Linked DNA regions of Homo sapiens: region 2 is linked to region 1. A link means that fine-mapping ties the variant in region 1 to the expression of a gene that starts in the linked region. Tissue or cell type: lung. Region 1 holds a variant in brackets; the other region holds the start of a gene. All regions are shown on one strand. Distances are between the middles of the regions.

Region 1 (6,661 bases):
CATTATCTGAGTTGAACAAATACAAGACTTATAGTTATTATTCTCCAAGGGTAGCAAGAGGTAATGACTAACAATTCTGGGAAGATCTTATTTGTGTTAGGTGTTGGCAGCTCTAAGCATGCATGGTAAAAGTGATATGGAGGCCCATTTCCTGGAGAATGTAGACTGGATGTGTCCACTTTCTTCTGTCACACATGAAACTGCTGTCAGTATGCTATCTACTCCATCTCACATCCAAAGAACATATCAAAAAAAAAAAAAAGATCTAAGGCCTTGGCATGCCACTATTTAGCAATTTTTAGTCACTGAACTATAGTATTCCCCCTTGTTCTTATTTCTTTTTGTGTACTCTTTGCCTCCTGCAAAAGTTAAAAACTCTTCTTTTTTGTAATAAAACACCAGAGAGCAAATATTTTAGGCTTTGAGAGCTATGTGGTCTACCGCTGCAACCACTTAGCTTTGTAGTTGTAGCACAAAAGCAGCCAAAGACAACACATAAACAATTGAGCATGGATATCTTTCAATAAAACTTTATTTATATGATCAATGAATAAAGGACTCCCTATTTAATAAATGGTGCTGGAATAACTGGCTAGCCACATGCAGAAGAATGAAACTAGACCCCTATTTTTCACTATATACAAAAATTAACTCAAGATTGATTAAATATTTAAGTGTAAGACCTCAAGCTATACAAATTCTAGAAGAAAACCAAGGAAGTATCATTTTGAATATCAGCCTTGGCAAATAATTTATTACTAATTCCTCAAAAGTAATTACAATAAAAACAAAAATTGACAAATGAGACCTAATTAATCTAAAAAATTTTACACAGCAAAAGAAACTAACAGAGCAAACAGACAACCCACAGAATGGGAGAAACTATTTGGAAACTATGCATCCAACAAATGTTTAATATCCATAATCTGTAATAAAGTTAACAAGCAAAGAAGCAAATAATCCCATTTAAAAGTGGGCAAAGGACATGAACAGACCCATCTCAAAAGAAGATATACAAGGAGCTAACAAGCATATGAAAAAAATATTCATCACTAATCATCAGAGAAATGCAAATCAGAAGCACAATGAAATACCATCTCACACCAGTCAGATGGTTATTATTAAAAAGTCAAAAAATTACAGATGCTGGTGAGTCGTGGAGAAAAGGAAATGCTTATACATTGTTGGTGGGAATGTAAATTTGTTCAGCCACTGTGGAAAACAGTTTGGAGATTTCTCAAAGAACTAAAAACAAAACTATTATACCATTCAACCCAGCAATCCCATTACTGGGTATATACCCAAAGGAGAAAAAAGTCATTGTACAAAAGCACATATACTTATATATTCACAGCTACACTATTCACAAAAGCAAAGATATTGACTTAACCTAGGTGCCCATCAACAGTAGATTGGATCAAGAAATTGTGGTACATATACAACATGGAATACTATGCAGTCATAAAAATAATGAAATCATATCTTTTGCAGCAACATTGATGCAGCTGGAGGCCATTATCCTAAGCGAATTAATGCAGGAATAGAAAACCAAATACTGCATGTCCTAACTTATAAGTAGGAGCTAAACATTGGGTACATATGGAGATAAAGATGGCAACAATAGATACTGTGGACTCCTGGGGGTGGGGGCAAGGGTTGAAAAACTACCTATTGGATACTATGTTCAGTACCTAGGCAACGGGATCGTTTATACCCCAACCCTCAGCCTCACACAATATACCCACGTAACAAACCTGTACATGTACCCTATTAATCTAAAATAAAAGTTGAAATTATTTTTTAGAAGACCCTATTTATAGACCCTGAAATTTGAATTTCATATACTTTTCACATGTCATTAAGTATTTTTATTTTGATTTTTTTCAACCATTTAAAAATGTAACAATCATTTCTAGCTTGCAGGCTGTACAAAATAGATGATGGGGTGAATTTGACCCATGGGCCATAGTGTGCCTACCTTTTCCCTTTTGTTTCTGAATTTTCCTTATTCATCTTCTTACAACCTATGCAATTTCCTGAGTTGAATATTAGAACAAATATATTTCTATGTTAACTTATCATAGTAGTTTTCTATTGCCACCTTAACTATTACTACAGCTTAGCAGTTTAAAACAATGCAAATGTATTATTTCACAGTTTTGGAGCTCAAACGAGTTTGACTCGTTTCTCTACTCCAGGTTCTGTAAGGCTGAAATCAAGGTGTTGGCTAGTTGAGTTCTTTTTTCTATAAAGAGATTCTGGGAAGAATCCACTTCCAAGTTCATTCTTGTGGACAGAATCCAGTTCCTTGTGGCTGTCAGAATGAGGTGCTCATTTCCTTGTTGACTGTTCACGGAAAGCCATTCTTAGCTCATAGAGGTCTCACTTTCCAGTCATTGCCTGTGGACCTCTACACCTCAGAGCTTTCTCAGCACATAAAATCTTTCTCATATTTGCAATCTGACTTTCCATTCTGCATTGTCTTTACTGACTTCCTCTTCTTCCTTTGTGTTTAAGGGCTTATGTGATTGCTTTGGGCCCATGTGGATAATCTAGGATAATCTCACTATTTTAAGGTCAGCTAATTAGTAACCTAATTCCATCTGTAATGTCTGATCACATCAGCACCTGGATTAGTGTTTGACTGAATAGCCAAGAAACAGGAGACATCTTTCGAATTTAGAATACCACAATTGTCACCTGGATTTCCAACACTGTGATACATAAGTCTATAGATCACTTGAAATGTATCCAGAAATAACTTAACCCATTCAAGCTTTTGGTTTTGGTAGGTTATATCTTAGATTTGACCGTATTCCATAAGCGT[A/G]TTTTATATAGTTACTGTTATGGAGCTTATCCAATAGTCTGGGCTTCTCAATAGGTAATATAACCACTTGGGAGTAAATCTATGGTAGACAAACTATGGTCTTACCTTTCAATGAATACTTTTCTCCAAGGTTAACATTTTCACTTTTTGCCAGTAGTGGAATGGTGTTTCATATATAATTTACCTTTGCCTCAGATTCCGAAGCAGATTTCAGGATAATTGCTGAACAAGCAGATTTCAGGATAATTGGGGAAGAAGGTTGACATATTTTTCAAGAGTGACTTTTCTATTTGAGATCCAGCTATTGATTTTCAAGTCCAATAAGTTGCTGAATCAAATGGATATAATATTCTGGGGCTTGAAATGCCTATTTGACTCTCAGTTGCTTTTCCTCAGCCACCATATCAGACATGTCACCAATTCTTACTGATTCTCATTCTCAGTGGGCCAAGTGTATGTGTCTTTCCCTTTACTCCTCACCTCCATGATACCCTGATTTGCATCTTCATCATTTTCTATCCTCTTTATTGTTTAACTTTCTAATTTGCCTGCCTACCTCTGGTTTCTCTCTTCTTCATATATTTAGCCAGAGATTATGTGATTCAATCTGAACTTTAGAAAAACTGCTAGAATGACATTCCACCTCTTTACCTCAGCATTCAAATATTTGACCCCAAATCCTACCTTTTAACTCCAGTTTTCAATAGAATTCTCCACAAATCCTTTACCGTAGTTACATAGTCCTATTTACTATTTTCAGAACATGCCCATAGAGGTTTTGGGACAATAGTGCTCACCTAATCAGCTAAAGCCATTTCTTAATTTTTAATTAGAAATATATTTAGTCTACCGAATGACTTCTACAGCTGTTAAAATCCTTGTGATATGCCAGAAAAGGACTTTTATAGCAGCATAACTACTATAGGTTGAATTCCAGGTATTCTAATTCATTCCACAAATATTTCCTGAGTGCCAGTTACTGCTCCTGGAAATGGTGAACAACACAGCCAAGGTCCCTGCCCTCATTTCACTGATGATAATAAGAACTATGAGAATATGAAAAGAAGGGTAATGTGTTAAAATTATGAGAGAGTAGTCATTCATTTGAAAAACATTAATTGAGATCGTGGTCTGTGAAAGACTTTCTTGTAGGTACTATGGAAAACAAAAGATGAAGCAGACAGAAATCAGTTCTCAGAGCATTTACAACCCAGTCGAAATGAGAGGGTAGAAATAATACTGAAGGACGCTATAAGTAATGGGAGAAGTACAGACAAAGAAGAGGATTATAAGCATTTCAGGAGGGAAGATGGGGGTGATTTCATGTAGCCATTGCAGGTAGGGTTTAAAAGATGGGTGTGACTATTCAAGGATCCTTCTTTCCCATCTTTAACATTGAACTTATTACCAAATCCAGGCAAGCACTTCCACCACCTATGATCTGAATTTATTACTCCTCTTTTAGTCTTACCATTGCCCTAGCATGGGTGCCATCATCTGTCTCCTGGACTATTACAATGGCCAACCTGTCTCTTTATCCTATTCTCTCATCAGTCTAACCCACTGTACATGTTATATCAAAGAATCTTTTCATCACAGAGATCTGATCATAAGTCTGATCACAGAGTCTGATCATGACCTCTTTTTCATTCCAAACCTTTACTTGATCCCTATTGCTTGCATTGAAGATCACTTATCCACTAATGCAGTGGTTAAGAACTTGAGCCCCAGGTCAGACTTATTGGGATGGGATCCTGGCTCTGCTACTTACCAGCTGTGTGATATGAGGCACATTATTTTATTGCTCTAAGTCCCAATTTCCTCATCTATAACATTAGGATAATAGTGTTTACATAAGGTTGCTATGTGGATAAAAATATATGAAGTATGAACCGTAATTAGCAAGTACCTAGCAGATAGTAAACATTCAATTAATACTGGCTATTATTATCACCATAAAATACTCCAGAGATTGAGATAAACTTTATAAATAATTTGCTGTTTTCAGTTTATTAGGGATTTTTGAGAGTTAATTATGTGGCTAAATAATTGAATTTCAATGCTCTTCCCTTTTCCCTTGAGTAGGCAGCTAAGGATTATAACTGGTGAGTGGTTTTTTGAAGAAAAGGCAAAACGTTTCAAGCAAGTCAATGTTCTCGGCACTGATGTTGTCCGACAGTCCATTTTAAGAAGAAGTCCAGGTAATTAAAGCAATTATGTGGTTTCACAACTGTTTTCATCTCCATTTGGCTAACTAAATAACTTCTCTATGTTATGTAGTTAATCAGCATAAATGAGTTTCTTGAATCCCTTAGGGCATTTCACAACTTGGTAGCATGAAATCTAGATACGTAATTCATACAAGACAAGAAGAAGTCAGTAGAAAACAAAATTCACAATGATTTTCCATATATCTCACCCACTAAGATTTTCAAAGAAACCATTTGTCTCCATCATAGACAGTTCTCTTTCTGAATGCATCCAATATTTTACTAAACACTTAAAGTAACATAAAACAGATGAATTAAATGATTCACATTGTGAAAGCAATCCTTGATTTTTCAACAATATTTATTTCCGATTTCCTTTCAATGTTACTTTTTAAATCCAGTGGTTCTCAATCAAAGATTGATAATATGTACCTTGTCTCCCTCCCTCAAAATGGGAGCATTTGGAAAGGCAAGGGGGGCATTTCTGGTTGTCACAGTGACTGGTGAGTCAATGGCATTTGGTGGGAAGGAGCCAGAGATGCTAAATGGCTTGAAATGCATAGTCTTACTGAATGAATACTGGCACCAAATGAAAATAACACTTTACCTTGACAGTGCCTTTTGGTGCATTCAAATTACAATTTAGTTAATTAAAGATGGAGTAAACCTTGTGATTGGGAGCATGTTTCTCGTATATGGTGTAGTAAAAGCGGAAGAAACATCTTTCAGCCTGTTTCTAGGCTTATCTCATCTTTCATCCAGAGGAGACAAGTGCCCTTGTATTTAAGTCTGGCACATATGGCGAGAAGGCTTGGAACTGATTCCAGTGGTACTTCTGGGTGTGGCACTAGCAAGGAAAGGCTTTTCCACATAGGTCACACAGATCCGATACTACAGAGAGATGGTGTGGAGTACAGTTAGAATTAGGCAATCAGCCATGGCCTCTTCTTCCACTCAAACCCCAGTACCTTCCAGAATGTAGGCAGTTCCTCAAGTCACAATATATTTGCACAGATGCCCACCCTCCCAGGAAGTGTGGCTTATATGCCCAGAAATTAGGACATCATTTCTACAACCTCATGCTAGAACTCAGTCTCCAGGGATTTGGAGATCTTAGGAGACCATGTTCCCCTGCTCTAAAAATATCAACAGAAGGCTGATGCAGTCATCCCTAGGAAGGTTATCTCAGTAAACCTCCCACAGATGAGTTCAGGATCTTTGTCTTCAGTTAACTCTAGAACACTCAACAAATTAGAACTAACTGTGTGACAGAAAAACTTGGGATGGGAATGGCATTGCCAATTATTATAGACTTCCTTGCCCTGAGCTAATCTGGGAAAGTGAAAGCAGAATATAAATTTGCTCTCATTTCTGGCCATTTTGTATGTAAATTTCTCTTCTGATTGTTTGTTAATGAGGAGCTGAAGAAGTACAGAGCCAAGAGCAAACCCGCCAGGATGCAGAAAAGTCAGACACTTCACCTGTTGCTGGGAAGAAGGCCAGCCATGATGGGCCCAAGAGAAAGGGGTAAGACATGGTCTTTCTGAGGGAATTTTTGATCTTTATTCCAGACACCTCTGAAATGAAGACTCCTTAATTTTTCAAGTTTGATGTCACTTCAATG
Region 2 (6,661 bases), 63 kb before region 1:
CCCTTTTCTCCAAATCCTCACCAGCATTTGTTATTGCTTCTCTTTTGGGTATAAGCCATTTTAACTGGAGTAAGATGACATCTCATTGTAGTTTTGATTTGCATTTCTCTGATGATCACTGATATTTAGCACCTTTTCATATGCCTTTTTGCCATTTGTATGTCTTCTTTTGAGAAATGTCTATTGAGATCCCCTGCCAGTTTTTAAATCAGATCATTATATTTTTCCCTATAGAGTTATTCGAGCTCCTTATATATTCTGGTTATTAATCCCTTGTCAGATTGGTAGTTTGCAAATATTTTCTCCTGCTCTGTAGGTTGGCTCTTCACTTTGTTGATTGTTTCCTTGCCATGCAGGAGCTTCTTAACTTGATGTGATCCCATTTGTCACTGTTTGTTTTGGTTGCCTGTGCTTGTGGGGTATTACTCAATAAATCCTTGCCCAGTCAAATGTGCTAGAGAGGTTTCCCAATGTTTTGTTTTTGTTGTTTCATAGTTTGAGGTCTTAGATTTAAATAGTACAATCGCATGGAGAACCGTTTGTAGGTTCCTCAAAAAATTCAAAATAGAGCTACCATATGATCCAGCAATCCCACTCCTGAGTATATACCCAAAAGAAAGGAAATCAGTATATTCAAGAGATATCTGCACTCCCATGTTTACTGCAGCACTATTTACAATAGACAAAATTTGGAAGCAATATAAATGTCCATCAACAGATGAATGGATAAAGAAACTGTGGTACATATACACAATAGAGTGCTACCATCTATAAAGAAGAATGAGATTCTGTCGTTTGCAACAACATGGATGGAACTGAAGGTCATTATGTTAAGTCAAATAAGCCAGACACAGAAAAAAAATTTTGCATATTCTCACTTACTTGTGGGAGCTGAAAATGAAAATAATTGAACTCATGGAGATAGAGAGTAGAAATATGGTTACCAGAGGCTGGGAAGGGTAGTGAGGTGCTGGGGGGAAGTAGGGAGGATTAATGGGTACAAAAATAGAAAGAATGAATAAGACATAGTATTTCTTAGTACAACAGGGTGACTATAGTAAAAATAATAATTTAATTGTGCATTTTAAAATAATGAAGACAGTATGATTGTATTGTTTGTAACACAAAGGATAATTGCTTGAGGCTATGGATACCCCATTTACCCTGATGTGATCTTTATATATTGCAAGCCTGTATCAAAATATCTCTGTAACTCATAAATATATACACCTACTATTTTTCCATAAAAATTACAAATAAAAAATCCTAAAACTCAGCCCTTACAAGATCTGCAGGGGAGACAGAATTTGTAGGTTGATCTCCCAAATTCATCAGGCTTGGAAAGGACCTTAGACTTTCTGCATAACTACATTAGCAAAACCAAACCAATTCTATGGAAATGCCAATATTAATAGAACAAATATTAATACTCCTCAGAGGGAGATAGCAGAGTCTTTACACTATATGATCCCCATTGTCCAATATGCAATAAAAAAATTCAACATGCAAAGAAACAAGAAAATATCACCTATTGTCATAAAATCAGTAGAAACAGACCCAAAAATGTCCAGTTGTTAAACTTCATAGAAAAAGACTAAATCAATTATTATGTATTCAAAGAACAAACAGAAAATAGGTTCAAAGAATGAAAGGAAAATATGATCTTTATAAATGTACAGATAGTGAATTTCAGCAGAGAAATGGAAACTATAAAAATAACCACATGGAAATTTTAGAGCTTAAAAAATTATAGTAACTGAAATTAATAACACACTAGATGGGCTCACATTAGTTTGGAGATGGCTAGCATCAAATGAGCTTGAAGACAGATCAAAAGTAATCATCCAATCTGAAAAAAATGGAACAAAACATGTATCTCTAAACTTTTTAAAGGTGTTGTATTGACTTCTTTTGTATGAGTTTTTTAACATAAGAAAGTAATAACTCTCTTGGTACTTCAAGCTAGACTCACGTTTTCGATTCTCCAGGACACCACCTTTGGGGTTCCCCACTGTAGCTAAAAGGGACCTGGCTATGGTAACATAAATGGGTAATCACCTTGGCAGAAGTGATCTTAACAAAAATTTCACTTACTTCAACTAAAGATTCAGTACCATACAAGCACTGAGAAAACCTCACTCATTCTCTAATGTTCAGCTGAGCAATCACATACTGTTACACATTTGTCTTCTAAAAGTCATACATACATAGCACAGTGCTATGATTAGATACCTGGACTATGGTTATGGAGTGCCTGGATTTAACTTTTGACTCCAGTACTTACTAACTGGGTGACTGTGGGCAGACTACTTAGTTTGTTCATTTGTAATATGGGGATAATAATATTATACACCTAACACATTTGGAGAATTATTGGAGAGGATATATGTAAAGCACTTACAACAGTGCCTGGCACATATGTGTTCATTGTTATCACGTTTCTCCCAGGTTTTTTAAGAATAGAGATTTTCAGGGGTAGAAGAATATTAAAAGAGTGAATCACCTTTAAAACACTGGTGTAAAAAATACCTCATGTCAAAAAATGTTTAAAATGTGCTTTAGATGAAACCTGTTACCTTTCCCCTGCTGATCAACAGAGACATTCCTTTTTGAAAGCTCAGCTTTAGAGATACTGCCTTCTTCTTGAAATAGCTGTCTGCAACAGATAAACATTACTCTGTGCTACTGGGTGTGTTCAATGTGTAAATAGATTGTGGGAATATGAGAGGCTGGTTTTTCAAGTTCCTGCTCCAAGTAGTTCACAAGGGTCAAGTAGTCCAGCATTCTACAGTTTGTGTGTTTGAGAGAAAAATAAGCCCATAAAAACATTCTAACCTTCAGATTAAGGTAAGACTAATGCGTTTAGGGATCTCCAGTGTGATATCTGATTTCTTAATTTCTGTATTTTGTGTGTGGTAGGGGAGTAGTGGGATTTGCTGGTCAGGAAGAAAACAGCTCCTTCCACCATTTGATATTGTATTTTACAGTAAAAAAGGGAGAAATATGTACAGAAGGGACATTTTGGCCATTGGTAGCTATGAGTTTAATGGATTGAGGAGAGAAATATAAGTATCTTTTTGTTATTAACACTTGATTCTATCTATGAAGTGAAGCATTGCACTAGGTTCTACTGAAGAGTGAGTGCCTCCAGGAACAAATATGCATTCTAGTGACATAAAAAAATCAAATTCACAGCAGAAGTGTTGCATCATTTTGCTATAAATCTCTCACACCTCTCTATATAAACCTCTCACATCTCTATATAACATAGATTGTCCTTTTGCTCTGAATTTCTTTCATTTATTAGAAAATTTAGATGTTTCATTTGGAATTATTTAATTGTTTTTACATTCAGTTCCATTTTTGATATGGACAAATATCCAGTATGGATATAAATTCAGTAGAAGGATTAATAAAGTCTGAAAAACCTGGAATAATTTCAACATGAATATGATACTGTAACAGCTTACAGAAATGCGATATTAACTGTGAACATTAATATACTCTGAAAAGATGCATCAGGGTTTAAAAAATTTCTCCTTAATGTAGATTGTTTTAATTACCAATACTGTCTTCCTCATTTAAATGAAAAACGTAATTTTACAACTATTAATATATAACTTCTCTTTGCTCCAAGTATATGTGTATGCCTGGAGAAAAGCATATGCCTGGAGAAAACAGGAGTTATATATTTATAGCATTCAAAATAGTATAAAATATTGTTTACATGTAATAATGCATTTAGAAGTACTACTTCAGTAGTAGCCTCCTTAAAAAGTATTTTAAACACAGGAATTAAGTATATAATTTTTTCATTTTGTAATAAGTTGTTTATATGTTATTTGGACAACAGCTTACACACAAAAGTGTTACAATTCATACCCTAGGTCTTAAATGCATGAAGCCATTTGTTTGGACTCTAGTGAAATCCTTAAATTGGTCCTTGCATCCCTCAGTATATATATGTACATACCCACATATACATGCATATTTACATGTGGGCAACTAATAACTGAGAAAATGTCTTACTGCTCTTTTAGTTGTTGAATCATGCTTTTTCTATGTATTTATGATTTCCTGAAATTCTTTGCTATTTTAAGTTTGGGTATTAGCTATGTTATCCTTCTATTTATTCAGATTTGTTAAAGTCTTCTGATAGGTTTAGTGAATAAAATTATTGAGCTTCTACCTCTTTTCTTTTGGAGGCCCATTTAGTATTTTTGTTGAAATTACTTCCTTATTATTATTTAGTATGTTAAGGGAAGGAAAAGGAAATGTAGCTTTAATATGTAAAATGAGCAGTTCGTTTTACTTAAGCTCTATTATATGATGATGTATCTTATGACTATTTTGCCATCCTGCGTAAGCACTTAGCTAATCATCTTTAATACATTCTACTTAAAATCTACTTGTAAATATGCTTTTGTACATTCATATCTTACTTGTCTGTGGTCTCTCATCCTCTTTCTCTCTCACCCCTCTATATACATTCACACATTTTCCATGATTTCACAAAACTTCTCTCCAACCTCGTTCCATTCCTGGTTATCTCTTTCTGTGGGGAGTATCATCATTTCCTTTGACCTCTGTTTCTCTACATCTTCCATCTTGCTTAGCCCATGGACTTTTGATTTTACTGAAGACAGCAAAAAAGCAGATGGTGCTTCTGTTACTTGCAGAGTTAGCAACCGCTGTGGTTACCTTAGGTTCTGAAAGATTATCTAAAATAGGGAGGAGCTCCTAGAGGAACAAAATATAATAAACATGTAGTGTACTGGGATAAAAAATTCACTTGATCTGGTCTCTCTCTCCTTTTAACAAAAACATTTCTCTAAGAAGTGATTAATAAAACATACCCTACTGCCTCACTTTCTCTTTTAAAATCTTTCTTTCAAATTCCCCTATGACATAAAATCAATCTTCATCACTTTATTGACACTGTACTTCCAAGGGTCACCTGTAGTGCTGCTAGGAAATTCAAGTACATTCATTTATTTATGTATTCATTCATCCATTCAATAAATATTTATTTAGTGACAGCTATGCATCAGGCATTGCTGAGCACTGAAGTTACAGTAGGGAACACTTAAGTCTGCCTTTATATATCTCCAGTCTAGTTAGGAAGGGTGTTAACTCACCCAAATAATTCATTACAAGTGTGATAAGGGCTATAAGGAATACTTTTCCAAATTCTCATTTTATTCATCCCCTTGGCTCTATGTGACACACATGATCAATTCCTACTTCTTAAATTTTCTCTTTCCTTCTTGTCCATGACTCTATACTATTTATTCAACTGCTTTTCTACCACTTCCCTTCTTGTCTATTTTTCCTTTTCTCTTCCTTAAGTTTGGGTTTCCCTCAAAGGTTTAGCATTTATTTAGCCTATAACCTATTACGTTTTGCCTTTCTCTATAACTTCTTATCAACCCTTAGTTTTAAATATCACCTCTAAGTGGATACCTCCAAGACTTCCATTTCCACATCTTATCTTTTCCATCTGCTATACATTTTCCCACTTGTATGTCCAAGGGTCACTCGACATTCATCATGATTGTAGCCAAACTCACAGCTTTTATGTCAAACCACTTCCCCTTTCATTTCATTTGTTTCTGTGAATGGCATTAATGATCTCTTGGTTTCTCACATTTGAAATCTTGGAGTCAATTTTGCTTCTAACTTTTCCTTTGCTCTCAATATCCAAACCACTACCAAGTCCATTCATTTCTTTAATTATAATGTATCTAGAAGCCATCCTCTCTCATCTCCCTTTTCTGTTATTTTTTTCTTTTATTCTCTATTTTCTCATCCTTTTTTCCCTCAGTCTAAGAGCTACCTACAATTCAAGGTTTTGGTCAGGCCCCATCTCCATCAGAAAGTCCACACCTCATGGATATCTTCTTTTTCTAAGCCCCAGAATCATTGGGGTAGTGAAAAGAACATAGCCAAAGAGCCAGGTTTAAGTTTTGATTCTACCATTCACTGCCCCCTGTGCACTCTCTGTGAACCACAGTTTCCTCAGACTCATTCTATCTCATATAGTGGCCACAGGAACAAATATAGTCATGGAGAGGAAATCATTTTGAACTATGAAGAACTATATAGATATTAAAGTAAGATTTGTTGCTGGAAGAATAACTCAGTAGCAGAGACCAAAACCCCAGGTCTTAACTATTGAAATCATATTGTGCAGGGGTTGAGAGTGTTGACTCTGCAGTCAGATGACCTGAGTTTGAATCTCAGCTCTGCTACTTACCAGCTGCATGAAATTGAGAAAACTTAGTTAGCTTTCCTGTTGCTGAGTTTCCTCACTGTCAATTGGGGATAACAATAGTTTCTACTGATAAGAGTGTTGTAGGATTAGAACGTTTAGTAAATGTAAAATACTTAAAATAGTGCCTAGCTCATAGTAAGTGCTCTGCAAATGTGGAAGAGGTGGTAGGGGCCTATGAGGCTAAGTGTGGTTACGAGGTGAAAGCCAGGTATTAGAACTGAGCCACCAGATGGGGATTAGGTACAGCAAGGATGCAAGCACAGAGCTACAGACTGGACACATGTACCTAGATGAATCCCTCATGATTCAGATAAAAAAAAGAATGATCTTGCCATTTGGGGCAGAACTGAGCAAATGATGGAGGTATGAACGTTCTGAGCGACCATT

What was found. PIP is the estimated chance that this variant, and not a neighbour inherited with it, causes the effect.
Region 2: it holds the start of SYTL5, and the variant in region 1 is the best candidate, but not a certain one, in a credible set for the expression of SYTL5 in lung (TOPMed, PIP 0.72).

Annotation. Positions count from the first base shown.
Region 1 is chrX:38,067,135-38,073,795 of GRCh38, forward strand. SYTL5 (synaptotagmin like 5) reads left to right here. Exons shown (of 17, transcript NM_138780.3): 4 at 4,913-5,028; 5 at 6,456-6,564. Among named protein-coding and RNA genes, the nearest start is that of MIR548AJ2, 46 kb to the left of the region's middle. The variant A/G (reference allele first, on the strand shown) is at 2,828.
Region 2 is chrX:38,003,822-38,010,482 of GRCh38, forward strand. SYTL5 (synaptotagmin like 5) reads left to right here and starts at 2,732. Exons shown (of 17, transcript NM_138780.3): 1 at 2,732-2,847.